Homo sapiens: one gene and its partners. The protein of the gene in region 1 interacts with the protein of each later gene in a pairwise test. Each region holds a gene or a part of one and is shown in the gene's direction. Other genes may lie near its edges. The genes, in order: TCP10L, BACE2, CCDC102B, LMO3, CCDC57, MAPK9 and PRKCG.

Region 1 (3,500 bases):
CCAGAAATAGTGTTGGTCTTACATCAGAGAGGGCTTGAGTATTTTGCAGATAAATGTGCCCATTGTGACATCTGAGAGGTTTTTCTGGTGTTCTCTTCCCAATAACAGCCATTACAGCAGCAGATCATCAGACTCCACCAAGAGCTTGGGAGACAGAAGTCTCTGTGGGCTGATGTTCATGGAAAACTCCGGAGTCATATAGATGCTTTGAGGGAGCAGAACATGGAGCTCCGAGAAAAGCTGAGAGCTCTGCAGCTGCAGCGGTGGAAAGCCAGGAAGAAATCTGCAGCGTCCCCACACGCGGGGCAAGAATCGCACACTCTGGTACCAAAAGCGCATTTATGTTTTTGTACCGTTTGCGTTATGTAAAAATAGCGTCCCCATAAAGATGTGGGCTTTATTGCTGAATGACGCGGTATCACTCACGCTCCGGGTGGTGGGAGGGGTTGCTATCTTTCCATCAACTCCATTTCCCGTAAGTAATGATTAATAAGAACTGGATACATCAGGCCTCTCACCTGGCACTCCAGCAGACAGAAGCATTGCCGCCCCCAGGCCGTGTGTCTCAAGTCCAGAATTCTAAGACATCTCATGATGTCTCAGGACAACAGCAGCAAACCCTTACTGTGGACTTTACATGGGCTAGGTACGGAGCTTTACGGTCTTACTCTCTATGACGACCCTATGAAATGGATCCTATTACTAACCCCATCGTGGCCACGGGCTGGAGAACGTAGAGCTGGGATTTGAACCCAGGGTGACTCCAGAGCCAGCTCAGTAGCCTGGTGTCCTTCTGTTCATCCTCTAGGACAGCTGTGTAGAATGCAATAGAGACCTGTTGAAACGGGAAAAGTTCCCTTGTCCCCCTCGCAGGGTGTGCGATGGGGGTGTGGCTCGCTTCTTTGGTTCCCCACTGCTCAAACCTCTAGGGGAGTGTACAGACCGGCAGGCTATGGGGCTCTGACCCCACGGCAGTGTCTGGGGGTGAATGTTTCCAGCTGAAGCCCCAGAGGGTGTGTGTTACAGTGCGGGAGCTCTTTCAGTTTACCCCTCCGTAGGCAGCTTGTGTTTATCAGCTCAATTAGACCCTCTGCCTTATCACAAGGACAGAGGGCTTTCTGTATCCTGGGTTCTTGCCTTGGTGTACCTGAAAAATCAGATCACACATGGGCTTGGAGGATGGGTGCAAGGTTTTTTATTGAGTGGTGATACCTGTCAGCAGATGGGGGAGCCAGAAGGGAGATGGAGTGGGAAGGCAGTTTTCCCCTTGGGAGTTGGGCTGCCCAGTGACCGGGCTCTCCCCTGACCACCCCAAGCAAACTCCGTGTCATTCCGCCAGTCGATGGCCTGCTGGCGTCTGCTGTGTCTGCTGGTGTGCTCTTCTGCCGGTGTGTTCTTCTCGACATCCAGCCGCTTGGTCTCTGCCCGCTAGGGTCTTGGGGTTTTTATAGGCATAGGATGGGAGTGTGGCAGGCCACGGTGGTCTTGGGAAATGCAACATTTGGGCACAAAAGCAGAAATGCGTAGGTCCATGGGCACAGGCCCAGGGGTCGAGCCCTAGCCAGGGACCCCGTTCTTCTCCACCCAGGACTTTCCTGCCCCCATCCTGTATCACTAACCTGCTCTATCCCGAACGAAGAACCAGCATTCTCATGCTGAAGTAGTGGGTGCCTCCCAGCACCAGCCTGCCTCTACAGAACACTGAGCTTTCACGTTTGATCACACCGCTCAAAGAACCAGCCTAAGAGAGTGTGAATGTGGCCAGTGTTATCACTGCCTTGTCTGGGTTCTGTTTCCTGCATATGGATCTAAATAACTTGAATCATTAAAATTATACATACAGGTAACAACACATGAAACCACATGAACACCCTCCAAACGTAAGTGGGGATATTTCTTAGTGGATTAAGAAAAGTACTAACATTTCCTAGCTGCATTTATTGTGTGAACTTTTAAATCGGTACTTCCAGGACTTAGAATATTTCCGATACAGCACAGTGATTACAACACACACACACACACACACACACACACACACACACACACAGGCACCCACCGAATACATTCCAGAGGAGACTGCTCTGTGGTTTGTTCTCCAAGCACAGCAAAAACAGCCACAGCTGGGCGCGGTGGCTCACACCTGTAATCCCAGCACTTTGGGAGGCCGAGGCAGGTGGATCGTGAGGTCAGGAGATTGAGACCATCCTGGCTAACACGGTGAAACCCCGTCTCTACTAAAAATACAAAAACATTAGCCAGGTGTGGTGGCGGGTGCCTATAGTCCCAGCTACTCGGGAGGCTGAGGCTGGAGAATGGCCTGAATCAGGGAGGTGGAGCTTGCAGTGAGCCGAGATCGCGCCACTGCACTCCAGCCTGGGGGACAGAGCAAGACTCCGTCTGAAAAAAACAAAACAAACAAACAAAAAAAACTGCCACAAGTTCCTCTACAAGAAATTACGGGAAATCTTGGAAGTTATTCCCACTCTTCGGGAGCTCTGCGAGAGCTTTGTTTCCATGGAGATGGCTTCTGCTGCCTCAGAAAGAAAGTGAGTTTAGCCTCTCAGCACAGCAAAGCGCCGAGTCCTTCTGCGGAAGGAAGAGCAGAAGCTGGGCAGGCTGTTCCTCTGTCAGAGGAAGAGTGGGGGAAATTGCCACAAATACTGGCCGGGATTGTCCACCTTCTGTGGGGAGAACCCAAGAAGACTCACAGGGATTTTTTTCCCTACATATATTGTATGCCAGTTCCTAAAAAATAGTATCTACTGCCCCATTTGGGTCATTGTATAACAATTACCCTAAGAGTCAATGAAGTCTTATTCAGTCTTCACATGCCCTGCAGTTTTGATCATTCTCTTATTTTGAGATTAGAGCTTGGTGAATTTCCAAATATTTTTCCATTCTGTGCATTGCACTGGTCACCGTGGGGCTATTTATAAGAACAGGATGTACGCTCACAAGAGCATACCTGATTTGAAGAAACAGGATGGGATATGTGAATCCCACACTTTAAATATGCGAAGGTGTATCTGTGTGTAGTCGCCGTTTTAGGGACTGAATATCTAAAAGGCTGAGACTCGAGCACCCACAGAACGCGGGCATGGCTGTGTGGGTGAGCCACTCTGGATCTGATATTAAGGGTTCGTTCATAGCAACCCTCTCCCCTTCTCATTCCCTTCTCCTCCTCAGAGGGCAGAACGGTGAATAATTTAGCATTCCAGACCTAATATACCTCATCCCACCTGAAGGATCACCCTGTTCCAGGTCAGTCTGCTGATAACAGGGAAAGTTGGGAATTTGCATTTTGGATCTTAGACAAGTTGTAGAGACAACACTAGAAGTAGTATCACATTTTCTTCCTCCGTTAACACACTCCCGGTTGAAGACACAGGAGCCTAAAGGAAGATATGTTGGGGATTGTTTGTTCTGTAGCCTTTGGGATCCTGTGATCATTTTGAAACAAGGAACCACAATAAGAAACACAAAGCAAACATCGGCTCCAC
Region 2 (3,500 bases), 8.6 Mb from region 1:
ACTCTTGCCCCAACCCCACACTGGGTACAGCAGGAACGGGGTGGTGGTCCTCCTTGCTGGTGAGTGAGGTCCCTCTCCAGGTGACCTGAGGCTCCTATGACTGACTGTGAGCCTCTGCCTGTCCTTGAGTCCCTTGCTGTGTGTCATGGATCCCTCCTCTGGGTCACCCTGTTTGCCCAGCCTTGGTGAGACACTGGGGTTCATTGTATGTTAAGGTAACAGATACTACCCGGACAATAGGGCATACCTGTGAGGCAGGTGGGCAGCCTGGCACCCCTTCTGTAATTTCCCTGGGTATAAACATGTTTCTGGTGGAACCTGAGGAAGAGAGTGTCACCTCTTCTGGGTGACTTTCCTGGCCTGGCTCCCCTTCATCCTCTCTTGGCCTAGATGTACTAATTTGATATTTGACTATTGCTACTCAATACAAAAAAAAGTGGTCACTTTTTTGCTCTTAGAATTCTCAAAAGAAGAGAGAATACTCTGGGAGTGCTGACATTAACCACATAAAGGAAATGAAATGAGTGTGTTTGTTTTGTGCTAATGCTTGCTGTCCAGCCCAGGCCCCGGGTGGGATGTTTTCAGATTTTTATTATATGGCAATCATATACCTGCACCTAGAAATATACAACCTCGGCGCTGCCATTGCAGGAAGACAAAGAGACTGTCTAGAGAGTAACGTGGCGATGCCCTGGGCAGCTCCATCATTCCAGGGTACCATAAAGGGAAGTGGGAATGCACACTCCATCTGTTTCACGCTAGGCTGAAAGTGGCAGGGGGAGAATTTACACCTGGCCTGCAAAAGGCAGCCTTGTGTTCCCACTTCAGAGCCCCAACTTCTCCAAAGCCAGTGCTTGGGAAATGGCCTTGTTGGCAGCAGGCAGGAGACTGGTGCAGTGTGCCAGCTGTGCAAACCCCCACCAGACTGGTGCAGTGTGCCAGCTGTGCAAACCCCCACCAGCAGCACCCCCACCAGCAGCCAAAGAAAACAATTTCTAAAGCAGCCCCCAGGATTTCATGCCACGGGGGTGGTGAGGGGTAGGAGGAGGTGGAAAGCATTGAATCAGAAAGTCTTCCAGGTACCAGCAATGCCAGGGTTAATATGGTCTGGCTTGCTTTTCAGGTGAGCACCTGTAGCTGGCAGGAAAGTGGCTTCTTGGTGGAGGTGGGCATGAATTCCAGAAGCCTTGGAGAGACATCCAGAGCCCTTCCCACTACATCGTGCTGCCTCCTGGGGAAATTCCTAAGCTTTTTTTGAATCAGAAAAGCCACTGACAAGCAGACAGAATTGTGTGGCTTGCGCAGTGATTGGAGAGCTAGGTGCTTTGGGTACTAGTCCCAGAGCTGCTACTTGTCGAATGTTGGGTATTGGAGAGAAGTCATTTGAGCTGTCTGAGCCTCTGTTTCCTCATCTGTAAATCAGGGAATTTGAACAAGTGACCTCAGATTCCTTCTAGAAGCTCTAACAGTCAATGATATCATCTATTTCATTTGAGAGAATCTCCATAGCTCTAATTTTTTGCCCCCAGACCAATCTGCTTCAGCTTTGTGTGGGTGCAACACCTGGGGTCCTGTTAAAATGCAGAATCGGATTCAGTGACCGAGAGCAGAGCTGAGGGTGGCTGCTGCCAGCTCACAGGTCACACTTGGAGTCGTTGCTTCTTTCCCCAAACCAGCTGCCGATGGTTCCTGGAAAGAGCAGGAATACCTTGCAGAAGGGCCTAGAAATAGAGATTCCCATATGCAGTCCAGACTTATTGGGTGAGCCTGTCTGCACTAGGACCTGAGAATCTGCATTTTATTATATCCCTTGAGTCCCCTTTAAGCAGCCACGCTGGCCCCAGCCATTGGACTCTATTTGGAGGCCACTGCAGAGGCCAGATGCCCCTCTGCTCGGCGGTTTCCTGTGCAGAAAGGCTGTGTTCTTTCTTCTTCCTAAATACTCTTCCTAGGTTAAGTGTTTCCTTCTCTTTGCCCATCTAGAAAATCTCCACCTCAAGCAGGTCGTGTTCCAAAAACTCCTCGTGTTGGGCAAGTGGAAAACACGCAGTTTTTTCTAGGGGTCTCATTCTGAGGCGGTGCTGCTGAAAATCTTGGTGCTGAACGTGTGTTTTTGAGATTTCCAGTCTATCACAGGGCCACAAGGTGTAAATATCAAGAAAAATGAATTACTAGAAAGGCAAAGTGAAAAAGACATACAAAATACAAGTGTCATTCTTTTTATTCTTAGTTTGGACAGATAGTCCATTCTTCTACACTGGTCCCACGGTTTCTGAAGCTTCCTGTAATGATCAGTGGTTACCTTGTTGCCCAAGTAACTGCAAATCCCTCCTCTACAAAGTGTGCTTGCTCCAAGGCAGTGCAAACTAGAAGTTGTTACAAATGGTTCCAGTAACAAATTTGTTTGGCGGCCTTTTCCCATGAATGAGACAGTGGTTATTTTTGCTAAAGCAGAAAGGAAATGTGATACTATTGGGCTGTGTTTTGCCCTCTGGAGTAATCCTGCTTGGGGAAAATGGAGGCTTGTTCCAGAATGCAGAAATCCCTGTTAAATTAGGCAGTCTTGGGCTGGAGGACGTGTGCCTGCCTCCCCAGTGCCTCACAACTCACATCTCTAAAGGCCACTCAGGTGGGACACCATCAAGACATTGAAAATCGACAGAAGGAAGGCAGGAAGGGGAGAGGATCGAACCTGTCAAAATAGATATTCAGAAAATCTGTGCTCTAAAATAAGGCAGCCCTTCCCTCACAGCACACTTATTCCTAATTTCAACAGGACTCCTAGTCTTGCCCCACAGCGTCACAGCCTACAGCAAATTAGAAACTGGGGTGGGGGGCGGATATTATTCCACCAGTAATACCCTTGGGACGGGGCACACAAGATGTTTGCCCTCCTACCTCTCTGTCACCTTCCCAAGAAAGGGTCAAGATGAAACAGTGTGCGTTTATGGTATTGCGAGAGTTAAGTGAGCTGCGGTGTATTAGAACCTTAGCCTCGCGCAGCGTCAGCCGTGTGGTAAGTGTTCCATAAATCTTCGTTTAGAAAAAGTGGCAAATTCCAGGCTGCTAGTAAACAAAGGAGGGAAGACAGACAAAACGGAACAGCAACAACAGAAAACCCAAGAACTAGATGCCCAACAATCTGGGTCTGTATCTTGAAGGAATGTGCATCCTGTCCTCTGACTGCAAACCCAGGCCTTCTGTGGCCCCACGATGCTGCCTCCTAGCCCTCCTAAGGTGGGAATGGAGCTTTACCCCTTGGTGGCAAACAGACCTGGCTCCATGGATCTCAACCTGGGGTGATTGTGTCCCCACCCCAGGGGACATCTGGCATCCTCTGGGGACATTTTGAGTTCTCACAACTTAGAGGGTGCTACTGGCGTCCTGTGGGTGGAGACTGGAAGTGCTGCTCGGCATTCTTTGCCGTACAGGGCAGCCCCCACAACAAAGAACGATCTGGTCCAAAATGGCAACCATGCCAAGATTGAGAAATCCTGGTT
Region 3 (4,184 bases), on another chromosome or scaffold:
GGAAAACCAGGAGAGTGTTATGCCAAGACAAGAGATGTCTTCATGTGGGCAGGGTTGTGAACAGTATGAAAGGCTGTGTAGATGTCAACTAGAAGGATTGAGGTGAGTTAGAAAAATTAAAAATAAATAGAATATTTATGTACATGCATGTGTGTGTGTGTGTGTGTGTGTGTGTATTGTCACTTTGATGAATTAAAATCAGGTGGATGCAAGACTAAATAAAATTCTTGGCTGGAGAACTTTCAATCATTTGGCCATGACAGAAAGAATGGTACCTGAAAGTGAAAATGACTGAATTAAAAGTAAAGTTCATTGGCATACATGAAATTGACTAGAGAATGTATGGTATTTAACATCACGTGGGGAAAATCCGGACAGGAGGGAACGTTCAAAGATAGAGGAGAGAGAATCATGATTAAGTTTAGCTCGATGGGTCAATTGGCTTTATACAGGAAGATGGCCACCTTTTCCATTGCATCAGAAAGTAAGTGGGAAAAGAATGTTAAGTAGAGATAGATGATAACACCGTAATAAGCCTACAAATTAGGGAAGGGTGAAAAATAAAATAATTTGAAGACATTTATTGCCTAAATTTCAAATGTTGTTTTTTTGCTACTTAAAAGGAGCAAGGCTATCCTGTTACCTTTTGACTTTTCTTTTTTACTTTGGACATTTTTTTGCTGCTAGTTTCAACCAGAGAAGCTCTTTTTTATGTGATCTCTCGCCTCCCCCCTCAACCCCCATCAGAACACTTCCTGACAGCTGAGTCATGTCAATGGAAAGCTACTTCATATTCTTTTTCCCCAGGGAAAGGGGCCAGAGAGCTTTCACTGGGCACCCCGGGGACTACAGCTCACAATTCCTGCCAATGTGACCACAATCAAGGGTTTTGACATGCAGTTATTGTTTCATGATTTGTATACTCAAATCTTTTATTAAATATGATTTCTTTTGCTTTTGTGCAATCTAATGCAAATCAGATTGGATGAATATTTTATATTGTTCCTGTAATGTGCAGTATAATTTCCTTTTAAATATTTTTCAGATAGGTACTTCCTGGGCTTTTTTTTTTTTTTGCTTTGCTATTTTAGTTTTTCTATTATTATTACAAGTTATACTGTTGTAATTAAACATTAAGAACACTTGTGGATCAAGGCGTGGGTGTCTTTTTCTTTTTCATCCACAGTACAGGTTTCAAATGGTTGTATGGAAAGCTTTGGATAACCATACTTAGGGAACATTAAAAATGGTTTTATTTTGGTTGGCTCAATGGTGATCCAAAGAGGGGGTTGTGGTAGTGGTTTCAATAAAACTTCACAACCAATGGGAATCTTTTTTGAGTTTGTGTGGAGTGCCCTTAATGCTGGAAATAATCCTGTTGGCTAGGACTCCAGAACTGTACGGATGAGAAAAGGATGCAGGAAATTCTGTTGTTTACACATGTGGCTGCAACTGAGACACTGGAGCAGCCCAGCAAGCCCAGAGGGTAAGAGTGTTTAATAACCTTGTGGTTTTCTATTTAATTTTTATATTTTCCTGCTGAGGTACAGCATGTGTTGTTCTCAGAGCAAAGACAGTTGCTTACAAGATGCAGAGCAAAACTACTGTAGAGCTGGGAAGCAGAAGGATTTGGAGTTTCTTTTTAAAGTGATTCCTTCCTTTCCCCTTTCATTTTTCCACTGTGGGTGTTATTATCCTGACAATTTGTCATACATTTCCTGTCTTTAAAAAATAACTGTATACTAAGCAAAACTCAGGTAAGAATTTCGACTCTACATTTAGACAGTAATAGTATATGTTGATATTAAAATTTTGTTTCATTGTTCCAAATGAATGTGAATTAGTCATTGTGTTTGAAGTAATCTATATTCTTACAGTAAAAAAGTAAAATTGTTATGGAAATCCTCCTATCTATGCCTCATGTACCTTGAATTCTTTTCAATTGTTGAGTCTTCATGCTAAATTCTTGTATTCGTTAATGGAAAGTATATTTCAAACTTAGCATGAATATTGATTTCTTTACATGCTACCTGTATAGTGTGGAGGAGACAGGGATACAGAATAAAATAATAAAATCCTGTGCATAATAAAAAGTAATGCTTAGCTATATAGAAGTAAATTATAAAACTGAAAAAAAATCTCTGGAAACCTTTGGGAAGCATTTGCTTACGTTTTCTGCAAAGATAAATTATCAATTGAATGTCAAGTGAGTACATTTATTAAATATAAATATAAGAAAGATTCGTCAAAAAATATAATTAGAAATATGTCAGTAACATAGGACCAAAATATATAAAATATTTATTGATATTCTTATTTACATCAATACCAGTTTTTCTGTTTTCTAAAATAATGTGAATGTGTTTTTGCTAATAATTTTCATGGGAAATGGTGTTATTACAACTTTTGAGTAAATATTCTCTTGTTAGTAAAATATGTTATTGCCAATAAATATTTTTATATATCCAGTAAATATTCTTGAATTCTATTTCATATTTTAATGAAAGCAATAAATTAGAAAGAAGATTTATAAGTTAGCGATACAATATCTGTGTAGGTTTGTGTGACCTATTTGAATATATTCAGAAAAATGCTTTATGTGAATTGCTTTATTTTCCAAAATATCCTATGTTCTTATGAAATCATAGATAATTTCATTGTCTCTCTTTTGCATCCTTCATATGTTATCATTGGATTCAATAATTGCTTGATCACTGGGACATTGTTTCTGGGCCTCACTATGGGTTTGGCTTCAAGGTAATTTATGAATGTTTCATCTAATTATTACAGTTACAAAACAATGGCTGTAATTCTTAAAATACAAGAAATGCTCTCAGGTCGTCATATCTCTTATGCTGATATTACAAGACCAATTGAATTCTGCCATAATGCCAAAATATTCAGAAATTCCCTTTTTAGCAGGTATGTGAGTCCTAAAGAGATGCCAGAGGCTTTAAAGAAAAGTTCAACTTCTTGAACTTAGTCTTGAAAAACTAGTGGAACTTGGATAGGTGCTGAAAGCAAGAGGAATACTCTACTTTGAAGAAGTAATTGGCAAAAAGGGTTTTGAACACAAATTAGCATAGAGCATAAAAGAATGGTGAGTAATTTATCTGATTGGAGCAGAAAAAATATACCTTTGTGAGTATCAGACGTTGTACTCAATACATAGAACAGGAAAAATTGATAGAGCATCTTAACATTGCACACAGAAAAATGTGGCCTTTACATATCATACAAAGGGGACAATTGCAAGTTTCTGAAAAGAGGTGGAGTATCTGTGCCTCTTTTCATCATCTTTACCATAATCATCATCATCATCATTTTGCCAACACATAATAGCATTTTCTGCTTGCAAGGTGATTTACATACATATCCACAATTTTGATAGCTTTGCAAGAAAATGAACATTATTTTACACATTATTTTCATTTTGCACTTGAAGGAACCTGCTGTTCAGAAACGTTCAATGATTTGCTTAAAGCCACAGATAAAGAAAGTGAGGGAACCAGAATTTCAAATAATGTCTTTCTGGCTCCAGAGCTATTTCCACGATGTTGTGCTGGTATTCTAGGAATGTGAATCTGGCAGAAGTCGAGCAGAATGGTTTGAAGTGGACACTGGGATTTTAGGGTGCAGGGAGGAGGTCGTGAGACAACAGCCCAAAGATCCATTCCGATATTCTATAAATCCAGACGAATTACTGTTCTATCAGTTGGGCCACACTTTTCCTTTGGGAATTGAGAGAAGAGACTGACGCTGCAAATAAGGGGTAATTTTTACATTTAAATTAGCGGCCCTCAGATTCAACACTTATGCTTTTCTCTCTCTTACATTTTCTTAAATCTACTTAGAGAAGGTATCTTTTGCATTCTCAAAGAAAATGTCATCACTGATTTGCACTGAATATTACCTATTCACAAATGAGATGTGTGAGGTGGCCAGGAATAACACTGGGGATGTACTGACTTTCCTCTGTTTCTTTTTGATACATGGTATCAACGAACACTCAGCGACCAAATACTCTTAAAACTATGGAATGACCAAGTTATTATCAAATAAAGGCATTGTATAAGTTTCATTTCAATAGGTGAAAAGCATAAATAAAATTCACATTGTAATAGATAGTGTGAAATACAGTACATTCACAGTAAAAAAGAATAGAACTTATTTATTAACATGTT
Region 4 (3,500 bases), on another chromosome or scaffold:
GACAGTATATTATCCTTCAATTTCTGGTCTAGCTATATATAGTTTACAGCCTCATTTACTTTAATGTGCTACTTGAATAACATAATCATAGCTATAACTATGGTATAGAGCCATAAGGTGCATGCATGCGCCTCTATGTTTTTTGACTATTTAAATGGCTTCTTCATAAATGTATTTTTAATAATAATGGCAAACCTTTTAGTAACTAAATGTCAAAAAGTAGTGAATCATTCATTAGTTGGTTCCTTTCCCAACTAAAATGTTTAATATATAACATTAAGAGCAAAGTTATATTGCTTTTATATTTTCTATATACTCTAACCCAGAGATTTTTGCTATGAATTCACCCCCATTGACTTCTGTTTATGTGCAGTTACGTAAGCTTCCTAATGTATTTGTCTTTTCCTTTTCTTCTCAAACAAGATGTGATTTTCATCAAGGAAGGTCAACGGAGAATATATTGCAGAAGAATATTTATGCATACACCTAGGATAAAATCCACTTGTGTACATCATAAAGCATTGTGTATTGTAGCTTTACAGAGTATATTAACATCATCTCTCTTCACGATCTCAGATTTCTCTGTAAGAGTTTGTAAAAAAAAAAAAATGTTTCTTATTCTAGGCTCTTTGGTGTAACGGGAAACTGCGCTGCCTGTAGTAAGCTCATCCCTGCCTTTGAGATGGTGATGCGTGCCAAGGACAATGTTTACCACCTGGACTGCTTTGCATGTCAGCTTTGTAATCAGAGGTAAGCAGGTCTCTTTTTGGTCTCTAAGAAATGGTTAACCTCTCTGTGCTGGCTATTTATTTAATAGGTGGAAATTATATTCATACATTTAAAGCAATCAATCTCAGCGTTTTTCTGTTCTGTAAACTTTAATCCCATGCCAGAGACAAGCTACTAAGGAGAAGAAAGGTCTTAAGACTTACTTCTACCTGAAAGAAAAGCATCATATAAGAGCAAGTAACAGAAAATGGAAACACTACCGTAAACTCTGACTTCTTTTACTCATTCCTTCTTTTATTATTTTCCTGTCTTTTTAAAAGTAGTTTTAAATATCTACTTTTTTATACTACTTATGTGAGTAAATAAATTGGCAATGAAGCAAATATACAGGAATTTGTTGCAGGTATTTTATATTCTTATTATTTTTTATATTTTAAATTCCTTATCCCTCATGTTTTTGTTTTTGCTTTTTTAAATACAAGGTCTGGTTCTGTCACCCAGCCTAGAGCGCAGTGGCACTAACATGGCTCATGCAGCCTCAACTTCTGTGCTCAAGCAATCCTCCTGCCTCAGCCTCCCGAGTAGCTGGGAGTACAGGTGTGCACTCCCATGCCTGGCTAATTTTTTTTTTTTTTCATTTTTTATAGAGATGATGGAGTTTCACTATGTTACCCAGGCTGGTCTCAAACTCCTGGCCTCAAGCAATCCTCCCACCTCCACCTCCCAAAGTGCAGGGATTATAGGCATGAGCCACCACCCCCACCCAATCTAGCTGTTTACCTTAAATTTTAACCCTGTCCTATATGTACTTTTGCAGTTACTTCAAATATCTTTGAGAATCAGTCCAGATATAGCTAATAATTAAACAATTATTATCATTGGAGAGGAGCATTTGAAAAAGTGTTGAACAGGGAACCTGGAAACCTAAATTCTAATATGGGCTCTGCCACTAATAAGCTGTGCGATCTTAAACCAAACAAACACCTTCCCTCTCTGGACCTCAGGTTTTTCATTTGTAACATATGAAGCTGGATTAGTTCATCTCAGAGAATTCTTTCAGCTGAAAAGTATTATCACTTAATTCCATTTTTTCTTATTGAAAGTTATATTTTTTATTTCTGTGAAAACTATATACTACTGGCACCTGTTTTATATGATAAATGGAGAGGATTTTAGAACATTAAAATGTACGTATTAAAAATACAACATTTCAAAAATTAGAACACTTGATAGATTTTAATGAAAATGAATTCACTGACTTTCTGTGAGAACACCTGGCAGAGTATATAATCAATAAATATTAGTTGCATCAAGTTCTCAGTTATTGTAATTTACTCTGAAAGGTACTATTTGATGCAGAATCTTCTTATGAGACCCTGTAGAATAGTAGAAAGAATGTGACATTTCTAGTGAGAACGGGATTCAAATTTCAGCACCACCATATATTAGCTGATATATTAGCTGTGTGATCTTGAGTATGTTACTTAATCTCTCTGAATTTGATTCCCACACCCATAAAATAGAAACACTAACACCTCTCTTGCAGAGTTTGAAACTTAAATGAAATAATTAATTTATATTAAATGTCAGGAACACAACAGGTTCTCAAAAGTTAGTTATCTTTATAATTTACCAAATAATATTCCATTAACTTGACTTTCCCACAAGGCATGTATCACAATAGTGTTTCTTGCTAAATGTAGATATTCAGATTGTTGCCTAATGTACCTTATAATGTAATAGTTACCCAGACAGTCATGTAAGATGTTATCTTACAATGTCTTGACTCTTCCCAGCAAGTACTGAGAATCAAAGTAAGTTCATTCAGTCTAGGGTAACATTTAGACGAAAATAAATTGGCAAATGCACATGTTTTTGGTAGGGATAAGGATATACAAACACAAACATTCCCACATCCATACAGACACCTTTATGTGCATGTATATATGTATTTTATACATTTTAAAGGTGTCTTAGTAGTAAATTTAGAATACTTTTGTTGACTTGTCATGTTGATCAACTAATAGCAGCCAGTAACCATGCAGTTCCCATTATGGAATCATAAAGTCATTGCTTTTCTACTTATAAAAGATTACATATTCATAGTAGGAAATTTAGAAAATAGAAAATGATAAAAACAAGACATTGTCCCATGTCTCATTCTTCTAAAAGAAAACATTTTAATATTTTGATATATAGCCAGCCATACATGTTCCTATGTCTATAGGACAAATGACATTGTATAAATATTACACTCACATTTAAGCAAATTAAAGTTACAAGGGAGAATCCTAATGTTTGATATTTGGACTTTTTCACTCAATTTATATTTTGTGCCTTTTTTACCTGCCATTAAAAATTCTTTTAAGATATTTTAAGCTTTTCTGAGTTCAGCTTTATGGACAGAGCTTCACATATGTCTTCTATCATCAGATATATAAGTTGTATCTTCAAAAGTTTTTGTGCTGTAAATATTATCAGTATTATCAATATAAAAATGGACCTTATGAGACCCTGTAGAATAGTAGAAAGAATGTGACATTTATAGTGAGAAGAGATTCAGATTTCAGCACCACCATATAGTAGCTGATATATTAACTGTGTGATCTTGAGTATGTTACTTAATCTCTCTGAATTTGATTCCCACACCTACAAAATAGAAACACTAATACCTCTCTTGCAGAGTCTGAAACTTCAATAAAATAATTTATGTTAAATGTCAGGAACACAACTGGTTCTCAAAAGTTAGTTATTTTTATAATTTACCAAAT
Region 5 (3,500 bases), on another chromosome or scaffold:
CCATGCCCGGCTAATTTTTGTATTTTTAGTGGAGATGGGGTTTCACCATGTTGGCCAGGCTGGTCTTGGACTCCTGACCCCGGGTGATCCACCTGCCTTGGCCTCCCAAAGCGCTGGAATTACAGGCGTGAGCCACCACACCCAGCCTGCTATAGCTTTTTCTTTGCTGAGATTTGTTTTTCCATTTGCTTTACTAGATTACTTGAAGCGCTTTTATAATGACTGCTGTAGCTTCCTTGTTGAAGAATTCCAGCGTCTGTGTCATCTTGGTGTTGGCATCTACCTATTATCTTTTCTCCTTCAAGCTCAGATCTTTCTTTTTTTTCCTTTTTCTTTTTTTTTTTTTTTTTGAGATGGAGTCTCGCTCTGTCGCCCAGGCTGGAGTGCAGTGGCACGATCTCAGCTCACTGCAAGCTCCACCTCCCGGGTTCACGCCATTCTCCTGCCTCAGCCTCCCGAGTAGCTGGGACTACAGGCGCCCGCCACCACGCCCGGCTAATTTTTTTTGTATTTTTTTGTAGAGACGGGGTTTCACCGTGTTAGCCAGGATGCTCTCGATCTCCTGACCTTGTGATCCGCCCACCTCGGCCTCCCAAAGTGCTGGGATTACAGGCGTGAGCCACTGGGCCTGGTCAGATCTTTCCGGTTTTTGGTTGTCAGGTTTTTTTTTTAATTGTATCCTGGACATTTTGGGTTTTATGTTGTGAGACTCTGGGCCCTATTTAATTTCCTCTTTTATAGATGGGTGTAGCATGCTGGTCCAGGTGGGGCTGGAAGTTCTGCTACCCCGTGGGTCCTGCTGAAGCCACCCCTTCATAAAAGCAAAGCACCAACTTTCACATGTCAAGTGCACCTTGAAAATGTATTACCTTTGCTGAATATTTGGTATGGCTTTTCTTAATGCTGTTTTATTACCATAGTGACAAGAATGGTGAGATTGACCACCACCGGGAACAGTATGAAAATCTAAAATGGACACTGGAGAGAAAACTTGAGGAGCTCGACGGTGAGCTTGCTCTGCAGAGACAGGTAGAGCCTCTGGGTCGGCCCCTTCCTGGGTGCTTTCCCTGCCTGCCCACTGTGAAACTGAAATCATATAGGGCTGAGGAAAAGACAACCATTTGGTTCATTGCCTGCATTCTCCTTGGGAGTAAAATGGGGTCTTTGGGGCAGATGCCACTCTGGGATGGTCTGCAGGGAAACAGGATGGGATGTCTACATGCAGCCACCTCCACAGTGTTTCCTTGTTTTCTTTCCTCATGGATTAGTCAGGGTTCTCCAGGGAAACAGGCAATAGGAGACGTGTAGATATATAGGAGATAAATTGTAGGAATTCACTCGTGCAGTTACGGAGGCCATGAAGTCCCACAGTTTGTCATCTGCAAGCTGGAAAACCTGGGAAGCTGGTGGTGTAATTCAGCCCAGGGGCAAAGGCCTGAGCACCAGGGAGCCACTGATGTGAGTCCTGGTCCAGCTCTGAAGGCCCAAGATGCAGGAGCCCAATGTCCAAGGGCAGGAGAAGGCGAGTGTCTCAGCTCAAGCAGAGAGAGCGAGTTCACCCTTCCTTGCATTTCGTTCTATTCAGGCCCTCAGTGGATTGAATGACGCCCATCCACAGGAGGAGGGCTAGTCTCTTCTGGAAACACCCTTGCAGACACTCCCAGAAATAATTTTTTACCAGCTATCCGGGCAGCCCGTAGCCCAGTCATTTGACACATGGAATTAACCAGCACACCTCAGAAATGATGAAACTTTTAAATTTATTTTTAGAAAGGTATAATTTTAAAAACATGAATTATTTACTATGGAAAAGAATTTGGAATTCAATTATGATAAGTTTAAAAACAGATGCTTCAACTGAAAAGTGGCAGTCACCGAATTTCTCCTCAATGTTCTGGAAACTCAGCCTACACCTCCAAGAGACTCAGCTGTGCTGGGGTTTTGTTGAAAGACATCCTATAGATTTATATCTAGAGACCACAGTCAGAGATGCTGCCACTGTGTGCATATGTGACAAGGGGCTGCATCTCTGCAGGTTTACGTGTGATGAGGGGCTGTGCCTGTGCAGGTGCAGGTGTCATGAGGGGCTGCGTCTCTGCAGGTGCAGGTGTCACGAGGGGCTGCGTCTCTGCAGGTGTCATGAGGGGCTGCGTCTCTGCAGGAGTCACGAGGGGCTGCGTCTGCAGGAGTCACGAGGGGCTGTGTCTCTGCAGGTGCAGGAGTCATGAGGGGCTGTGTGTCTGCAGGTGCAGGAGTCACGAGGGGCTGCGTCTCTGCAGGAGTCACGAGGGGCTGCATCTCTGCAGGAGTCATGAGGGGCTGCGTCTGCAGGAGTCACGAGGGGCTGAGTCTCTGCAGGAGTCACGAGGGGCTGCGTCTCTGCAGGTGCAGGAGTCACGAGGGGCTGCGTCTCTGCAGGTGCAGGAGTCACGAGGGGCTGCGTCTCTGCAGGTGCAGGAGTCATGAGGGGCTGCGTCTCTGCAGGAGTCACGAGGGGCTGCGTCTCTGCAGGTGCAGGAGTCATGAGGGGCTGCGTCTCTGCAGGTGTCCTGAGGGGCTTCTTCTGTGAAGGTGCAGGTGTGATGAGGGGCTGCGTCTCTGCAGGTGCAGGTGTAATAAATGGCTCTGTCTATGCAGGTAGGTGTAAGTGTTACTAGAAGCTGTGTCTATGGGGGTGTCATAAGGGGCTGCGTCTGTGCAGGTGCAGCAGTGATGAAGGGCTTTGTGCAGGTGTGACAGGGTCCCCTCTCTGGTCCTGTCGGATGTTGGGAGCTTGGTCATAGTAGGATAGGCCAGTGTGTCACTAATTTGCCACAGTCAGGTCAGCAGAGAAGGAGGCCACGCTCACGTCATGATGGGCCCTCCTGTGGACTGTCCAGTTGTCCCCGGAAGTGCTGAGCTCACTCCCGTTGTTCACAGGTCCCTGAGGCTGCTTCTGAAATGGCCTGCAGAGGACTTTCTCTTGGAATTCTCAGAAACCAAAGAGCTTTGTCGATTATGGATGAGTTTGAGAACAGCCGGAGTTCTTTAGGCATGAAGCCAGCGTCTAAAATCCGTGGTCAGTAAGAGACCAGTGGTGACTTTTCTAAGTAGTGAGGCTTCCTCAAGTGGCTCCAAAGTCACTTCCAAAGAAGGAGTTTGAGGAGGATCCAGCTGTGGGTGGTCCTGCCCAGCAGGTGGGGGGCTCTTGGCAGCATCTGGGGACAGTGGCGATTTGAGGCTGGTTGTAGTTGGCAGGGCGCAGCCATTCTTGTCAGAGTTTCTGGCTGGGCCGTGACTATGGCTGACTTCCCAGGCTGTCCACGCCGAATTTCTCAGACTCAGCAGGGCTCGTTCAGGGAGAGCCATCTCAGACGTTGGGAACATGGATTTTTTATCATGTTCAGATAGTATCCTTGTCTCTGGAAAGAAGGAAACGTGACGTTTTAACGTGGCAGCTTTGGTTACTAGGGGAAACTTGGGCAGCACACATCCGGTGTGGTTCTGGGTAGTCCGATCCT
Region 6 (3,500 bases), on another chromosome or scaffold:
ATGCCGCCTGCAACCCCCCTTGTGGCCCATCAGTTGGGGTGTCTTACAGGCAGGTGCTAGGCAGTGCTACTGAACCTGCAACTTCCTGGGTAAAGTATCCTCATGCCTTACGCCATGTCAGTGGCTTGGCAGTTTGACATTGCAGGTGCACTACTCTTGTGAAAAGAATGGGTGTGGGTTGTTTACAAGTCACAGTTTCTCAAGTGAGTTTGCAGGCCGAAGTCCCCAGGCAAAAGTCAAATTCCTAAGGCCTGAGGAAGGGGCTAGGGTGGAGGATCAGCAGGAAGAAAATCCCTTAGTTATGAGGGAAAAGGTTGCAGAAGTTGTGTTAAGGCTTTGCAAGTCAGGTGGAATATGATGCATGTCTTCATTCTGCAGACACTTCCCAAGTGTCTGCTCGCGCCAGGCGTGCTTCTGAGTGCTGAGAGCTCACACAGAGTCAGCACTGGGGAGGGAAGAGAGGTGGCAACCAGAACATGAGCAGGTGAGTTTTTGTGCCACGTACAGATGGAGACAGCAGCACCAGTGCTGGCGTGTCTTTGTGGCGAAGGTGAGAAGATTGGAGGTGGATGATCATGGAATTGCTCTTCCAAGGAGAGAAAGAGCCATGGGAAGATTCCAGGATCAGACGATTCTAGACCTGTGCTGTCCAGTATGGCAGCCACTAACCACAGGAGGCTGTGGAGCACTCAGGATGTGGCCGTGCTGCAGTTGTAAAATACATACTGGACTTCAAAGGCTCAGTACTAAAAAGAGAATGTAAAATATCTCAGTATTTTTCTTATGTTGATTACATTTTGAAATGATAATATTATGGATATATTGGGTTAAAAAAATATACTGTATGATTAAAATTAATTTCACCTATTTCTGCATGCTGTTGAGCATGGCTAGTAGAAAATGTAAATTATACACATCGTTCGCATTATATGACATTGTCTGTGGGACAGCACTGCCCTGGACTGACAGACAGCATGAGGACCTTAGCAAGAGAGAGTCAGAGTATTGGGGAACTCAAGTCCAGGCGTGGAGAGCAGGAGGGGGCCGTGTGTGCTGGACTGACAGCATGAGGACCTTAGCAAGAGAGAGTCAGAGTATTGGGGAACTCAAGTCCAGGCGTGGAGAGCGGGAGGGGGGCATGTGTGCTGGACGTGTAGATGCATGGATGGAGGGTAGATAGGACAGCCTGAGGGCCTGCGAGACCACAGAAAGGGCAAATGGGGGCCATGAAGGTTTCCACTGGGGGTAAGGGGCACCATCTGACGGCTTTAGGCTGATTTGTTTTAGTTTCAATTTGAGAGTAAGATTTTCCAAAGTTGTTCCCAAATCTCAGAGTTCAGTTCACTCCCTACACTCTCACACTGGCTTCACGACCCTCACGGATGTGAAGTAGTTTATTTAGCATGCTTCATTCATTTTACTAATTTAAGCCATTTCTTTCCTAGGATTTGAAGCCTAGCAACATTGTTGTGAAATCAGACTGCACCCTGAAGATCCTTGACTTTGGCCTGGCCCGGACAGCGTGCACTAACTTCATGATGACCCCTTACGTGGTGACACGGTACTACCGGGCGCCCGAAGTCATCCTGGGTATGGGCTACAAAGAGAACGGTGAGTATAGCCGGGGCTGGAAGAGGCTGGGATGTTTAGAAATTGCTCTAGCGGTGGTCTCGAGTTTTTTCTCTTTCCTTTGAACCATATGATATATACTGTGGGGACTGTTACACCCAGAATATAGCATGATCCAGAGATAAGAAATAATTAATTGTGTTTTTCCATTGGTTAAAATCATTCTCTTTTAAAAATTCACTTTTAAAATTGTTATTTTTGAACTTTTTAATCAGAGTTAAGCTGTCTATAGCCAAGTGTGCAAATCCTGAGTGTGCAGCTCAGCTGAGGTGAGCACACCCACAGCAGCAGCAGCTCTGGCCTCCCCATGGCCCCTCCTCGCAGCCCACGAGGCTGGCCAATCTCCTGATCTCCAGTACCATGGATCAGCTTTATTTGTTGGTCTGCATATTGTTTTTTTGAATTTGATGTAAATAGAATAACACATGTTTTCATGTAAAATTGGTGTCTTTTTACATCAAAACTTAGCTTATTCTAGCAATATCAGAGCTCTTTGAAACTTGGCTTTTAGCAAATTTGTTGAAAATAACGAAATCACGCTTACTTATTTTTAAAAAGACTGAAAGTTTGCCCGGGTCATCTGAAATGAGTTTTGCTACAGGTTCATCTTGCTGCGTTGTAGCTTGTGTTCCCACCCTGAGGGGCACAGCTTCATGTGCTTCCTGTGGAGGGGAGAGAAAACTTGATCCCCTGTTCACTTCTCCCCTCGGCCCGCCAGCAGGGCACTTAGAGGCCTCTGCTGTCTGTCTGAGGCCCCACAGATGAGGGTGGGCACCGTGGAAGTCTGGGCCCCTCTAGCAGGGCCTCACCTGCAGTCCTGCAAGCCAGCCAGCCTGTGCCGCCAGTGAGTGCTGCTGCCTTTCTGACGGGGCAGTCTAGAAAATGATCGCTCAGGAGGTGTGGTATCAACAACGCACAGAGGCTCCCGCCGGCAAGCTAGTGACGTGTACCGGGTTTGTCCTGGGAGGGGGTTTGAAGAAAAAAGATGGGGGACTCTAGCTGGTTTTTAATCCCCTGGTGTTTGGTAGTGGACATCTGGTCTGTCGGGTGCATCATGGCAGAAATGGTCCTCCATAAAGTCCTGTTCCCGGGAAGAGACTGTATCCTTCACAGGGGACCCGGTACTTGGCCATGGAGGCTGGGGTGGGCGTGTGGCCCTGAAAAGCTTTGTGTTCACAGGCACTTCTTGTTTCTGGTTTTTTGTTTGTTTGTTTGTTTGTTTTAAGCTATAAAGTATTGGACTCTTTGGCACTAAAACCCCAGATTGCTACAAACCGAAGGCTAAAATAGAGGTCAGCAATCATTCATATTGTGTAAAATGTCACCCTTAGCTAGCAATTTATTTTTCCATATTTGTGTGTTTAGTGCACTGTTAGAATTCCTTTTCCTCACTTTTGTTTTGTTCATGGCACTTCATAATTTTATCATTTCATTTTATTTTCAGTTGATATCTGGTCAGTGGGTTGCATCATGGGAGAGCTGGTGAAAGGTTGTGTGATATTCCAAGGCACTGACCGTATCCTTCCCCGCGACCTTGGCCCCGCCATGCTTTCTTAATGCCTCAGGCAGCATGACCACCTGCTTACACGAGCGCTCACGAGGACAAAGTCGTAAAATCCACTCCAGACTGTGTTCTAAGGGGGGCTTTACTGTATTTGTTAATTAGTGTCACAAGCCAAGTGGTTCAATTTCATTCTTTATTTTTAACTTGACTACCTGTGATGACTTTGAGACTTAGAGTTCAGTTAAACCGATTATATTAGCTCTTAATTTTGCCAAAAATAGCTGGACACATAGAAGAAATTATTTACTCTTTGATAAGTATATTCTGATATTTAAATGAAAATACTGTATTATTTAGTTTATTCCGT
Region 7 (3,500 bases), on another chromosome or scaffold:
TTCGTGTCATTTGAATTGGCTTAAATTTTTTTTTTTTATTTTTATTTTTTGAGACGGAGTCGCGCTCTGTTGCCCAAGCTGGAGTGCAGTGGCGCAGTCTCAGCTCAATGCAACTTCCGTTTCCCAGGTTCAAGCAATTCTTCTACCTCAGCCTCCTGAGTAGCTGGGACTACAGGCGCATGCCACCACACCCCGCTAATTTTTTTTGTATTTTTAGTAGAGATGGGGTTTCACCATGTTGGCCAGGCTGGTCTCGAACTCCTGACCTTGTGATCCACCCGCCTCGGCCTCCCAAAGTGTTGGGATTACAGGCGTGAGCCACCGCGCCCGGCAGAACTGACTTAAATTTAAACAGCCACATGTAGTTAGTGGCCACCAAATGGGACAGCACACATCTGGACACTTCCAGGCTTGTTTTGAAGTCAGGTGGGTTCAGAGTTTCGCCCAGGGTTTGACACAAGATCGGAGACAGTTTTATGATGTACAGATGGAGAGAGAGGCAGAGAGAGAGAGATCCACAGAAGTCCATGAGGCGTTTTACCACCCTCTCAGCTGAAAATAACAGAAGTCTACATAGAAGATGTGACTTCATAGAACATATATTGAGCACCACTGTCTACCAGCACGTGTATGTGATTGATGACCCCCCTCGTCCACTCACCTCCGCCACCAACACCAGATAAGTCTGATGCATCCAGTGCTCATTGGGTACACTCATCAAGATTTTTTTTTTTGTTTTTTGCCTGTAATCCCAGCTACTCGGGAGGCTGAGGCAGAATTGCTTGAACCTGAGCGGCAGAGGTTGCAGTGAGCCAAGATCACGCCACTGCACTCCAGCCTGGGTGACAGAGCAAGACTTTGTCTTGGAAAAAAAAAAAAAGATTTTTTTTTGTTTTTGTTGTTTTGTTTGATTTTGGGGTATTTTTTAGATGGAGTTTCACTCTGTCACCCAGGCTGGAGTGCACTGGTGCAATCTTGGTTCACTGCAACCTCTACCTCCCAGGTTCAAGCGATTCTCATGCCTCAGCCTCCCGAGTAGCTGGGACTAGAACAGGCATGAGCCACCATGGCCGGCTAATTTTTATATTTTTAGTAGACAGGGTTTCATCATGCTGGCCAAGCTGGTCTTGCTCCTGACCTCACGTGATCCACCCACCTCGGCCTCCCAAAGTGCTGGGATTACAGGCGTGAGCCACCGCACCCAGCCGATTTTTGGGGTTTTTTGAGACAGGGTCCCACTCTGTCACCTAGACTGGAGTACAGTGATGGGATCATAGCTCACTGCAGCCTTGAATTCTCCAGGCTCAAGTGCTCCTCCTGCCCCAGCTTCTCAAGTAGCTGGGACTATAGGCACAAGCCACAACACCTAGCTAATTAAAAAAAAATGTTTTTGTAGAGATGGAGTCTCACTCACTATATTGCCCAGGCTGGTCTTCAACTCCTGGTCTCACTCGATTCTCCTGCCTCAGCCTCCCAAAATGATGGGATTACAGGCGTGAGCCACTGCACCTGGCCTCAAGTATTTTGTATACAGTATAGGTTGGATCCACACAACAGCTTATTTGGTTATTTTTCCCTGTCTATCTGGTTTGAATCCCAGCTCCACCACTTTTTGGTTCTGTGACATTTCCTGAGTTAATTTACCTCTCTGCACTTGTTGAATTCCTTGTTTGTAAAGTGGAGATGATAATTATGCTCACTATGGATTGTTTTGAAGATTTAGTGAGTCAGACATTTGGGATGGTTTCTGACACATAGCAAGAGCCAAAATATTATTTTTTATTCTTGTTAAAATTATTATTATGACCAATGAGGAAACGAGTGAATAGTGAGAAGGAGATCTTTCCTCTGCATCACTCGGGGGTTTTTTTGTTTTTGTTTTTTTTTGCTGTTGAGACAGGGTCTCACTCTGTTGCCCAGGCTGGAGTGCAATAGTGCTATCACTGCTCACTGCAGTCTTGACCTCCGGGGCTCAAGTGATTCACTGCTGGCAGTTGATCTTCTTAAAAGTAACATGCAGGCCAGGCACAGTGGCTCACGCCTGTAATCCCAACACTTTGGGAGACCGAGGCGGGTGGATCACCTGAGGTTGGGAGTTCGAGACCAGCCTGACCAACATGGAGAAGCCACGTGTCTACTAAGAATACAAAATTAGCTGGGCGTGGTGGCACACGCCTGTAATCCCAGCTACTCAGGAGGCTGAGGCAGGAGAATCACTTGAACCCAGGAGGCGGAGGTTGCAGTGAGCCAAGATTGCGCCATTGCACTCCAGCCTGGGCAGCAAGAACAAAACTCTGTCTCAAAAAAAAAAAAAAAAAAAAAAAAAAAAAAAAAAAAAAGGTAACATGCCTTGACCAGGCATGGTGGCTCATGCCTGTAATCCCAGCTCTTTGGGAGGCTGAGGCAAGCGGATCACGAGGTCAGGAGATCCAAACCATCCTGGCTAACGCGGTGAAACCCCGTCTCTACTAAAAATACAAAAAATTAGCCAGGCACGGTGGCACGCGCCTGTAGTCCCAGCTACTCGGGAGGCTGAGGCAGGAGTATCGCTTGAACCCCGGAGGCAGAGGTTGCAGTGAGCCGAGATCACACCACTGCACTCTAGCCTGGGCGACAGAGTGAGACTCCATCTCAAAAAAAAAAAAAAAAAAAAAGTAACATGGATCAAGATTTGGCAAGAATGATTTCATTTAGTCCCCAGGGAGGGCACATGCCCCCACTTTTCAAGCGGTAAATCTGAGGCTTTGAAAAGGGGCAGGCGTGGTGAGGCCACCTAGCTGGGTAGGGGATAGAGGCAAGATTTGAACTCTGATGTATGTAACCACAGCCTCCGTGCTGTCTCCTTTTTAACAGCGACGTTCACTTTTGAGAATAAGAACAGCAGCCTCTGTCTGTGGATGGTTTGTGTGTCAGGCAGCCTGCTGAGAACCTTCACACACAGCATCTTATTTAGTGCGGCAGGAACCCTTTGAGTTAGGGTCAGCGGAGATATTTAGAAGCCCAGCACATTGAAAAGGATCCTGGAAACTGCCAACACCCTCCTCTACCCAAATATATATTCAAACTAGAAACCCCACTAACATAGATGAAAATCCAAGAATGGCCTAAATGTTCACCCTGTGATAATCCTTTTAATGGATTCTTAGAATCAAGTTATTTAACAAGCAGATATTGTCCCGGGGGTAGTGGGTGGCAGGGGAGAAGGAGAAGCTTCACTGATGACCTGCATTCTTGCTTAATGGACTCTGGAAATTTAGCATTGCTTCAAAATATAGATTATTTATTTCCACTTGACAGAGGAGGATGCTGAGGCTCAAAACTGGGAATGAACTTGCCCCAAATCACACAGCTGAGAAGCGGCCTAGCTCTTACTTACATTCAGGGCTATGTAGGGACTTCAATAAAATCCCTAACAATAACCACAGTAATAGTATTGGGAGCATCTAACGTGGTAGGCACAGCTATGTTTTGTACACCAATTATTTTATTTAGGCCTCCTG

The links.
Region 2: the proteins of TCP10L (region 1) and BACE2 interact in binary tests that used the Homo sapiens proteins (3 or more experiments, as listed by UniProt).
Region 3: the proteins of TCP10L (region 1) and CCDC102B interact in binary tests that used the Homo sapiens proteins (3 or more experiments, as listed by UniProt).
Region 4: the proteins of TCP10L (region 1) and LMO3 interact in binary tests that used the Homo sapiens proteins (3 or more experiments, as listed by UniProt).
Region 5: the proteins of TCP10L (region 1) and CCDC57 interact in binary tests that used the Homo sapiens proteins (3 or more experiments, as listed by UniProt).
Region 6: the proteins of TCP10L (region 1) and MAPK9 interact in binary tests that used the Homo sapiens proteins (3 or more experiments, as listed by UniProt).
Region 7: the proteins of TCP10L (region 1) and PRKCG interact in binary tests that used the Homo sapiens proteins (3 or more experiments, as listed by UniProt).

What each region holds. Positions count from the first base shown.
Region 1 is NC_000021.9:32,579,024-32,582,523, reverse strand, and holds part of TCP10L (T-complex protein 10A homolog 1), read left to right. Parts: intron 1-108; coding exon 109-324; intron 325-3,500. Other genes in the region: CFAP298-TCP10L (uncharacterized protein LOC110091775), read left to right, coding at 109-324. UniProt on the Homo sapiens protein: May be involved in transcriptional regulation. Has in vitro transcription inhibition activity. Acts as a tumor suppressor in hepatocellular carcinoma (HCC) cells.
Region 2 is NC_000021.9:41,174,660-41,178,159, forward strand, and holds part of BACE2 (beta-secretase 2 isoform A preproprotein), read left to right. Parts: intron 1-571; exon of another isoform or gene 572-3,500. UniProt on the Homo sapiens protein: Responsible for the proteolytic processing of the amyloid precursor protein (APP).
Region 3 is NC_000018.10:68,796,696-68,800,879, forward strand, and holds the start of CCDC102B (coiled-coil domain-containing protein 102B), read left to right. Parts: upstream 1-1,384; 5' UTR 1,385-1,486; intron 1,487-1,575; exon of another isoform or gene 1,576-1,757; intron 1,758-4,184. UniProt on the Homo sapiens protein: During interphase, forms fibers at the proximal ends of centrioles to maintain centrosome cohesion. During mitosis, dissociates from the centrosome following phosphorylation to allow centrosome separation. Contributes to CROCC/rootletin filament formation.
Region 4 is NC_000012.12:16,557,663-16,561,162, reverse strand, and holds part of LMO3 (LIM domain only protein 3), read left to right. Parts: intron 1-624; coding exon 625-750; intron 751-3,500.
Region 5 is NC_000017.11:82,195,843-82,199,342, reverse strand, and holds part of CCDC57 (coiled-coil domain-containing protein 57), read left to right. Parts: intron 1-918; exon of another isoform or gene 919-920; coding exon 921-1,029; intron 1,030-2,246; exon of another isoform or gene 2,247-3,500. UniProt on the Homo sapiens protein: Pleiotropic regulator of centriole duplication, mitosis, and ciliogenesis. Critical interface between centrosome and microtubule-mediated cellular processes. Centriole duplication protein required for recruitment of CEP63, CEP152, and PLK4 to the centrosome.
Region 6 is NC_000005.10:180,247,084-180,250,583, reverse strand, and holds part of MAPK9 (mitogen-activated protein kinase 9), read left to right. Parts: intron 1-1,445; coding exon 1,446-1,611; intron 1,612-2,657; coding exon of another isoform or gene 2,658-2,729; intron 2,730-2,855; coding exon of another isoform or gene 2,856-2,884; exon of another isoform or gene 2,885-2,921; intron 2,922-3,073; coding exon 3,074-3,145; coding exon of another isoform or gene 3,146-3,186; exon of another isoform or gene 3,187-3,500. UniProt on the Homo sapiens protein: Serine/threonine-protein kinase involved in various processes such as cell proliferation, differentiation, migration, transformation and programmed cell death.
Region 7 is NC_000019.10:53,885,197-53,888,696, forward strand, and holds part of PRKCG (protein kinase C gamma type), read left to right. Parts: intron 1-3,500. UniProt on the Homo sapiens protein: Calcium-activated, phospholipid- and diacylglycerol (DAG)-dependent serine/threonine-protein kinase that plays diverse roles in neuronal cells and eye tissues, such as regulation of the neuronal receptors GRIA4/GLUR4 and GRIN1/NMDAR1, modulation of receptors and neuronal functions related to sensitivity to opiates, pain and alcohol, mediation of synaptic function and cell survival after ischemia, and inhibition of gap junction activity after oxidative stress.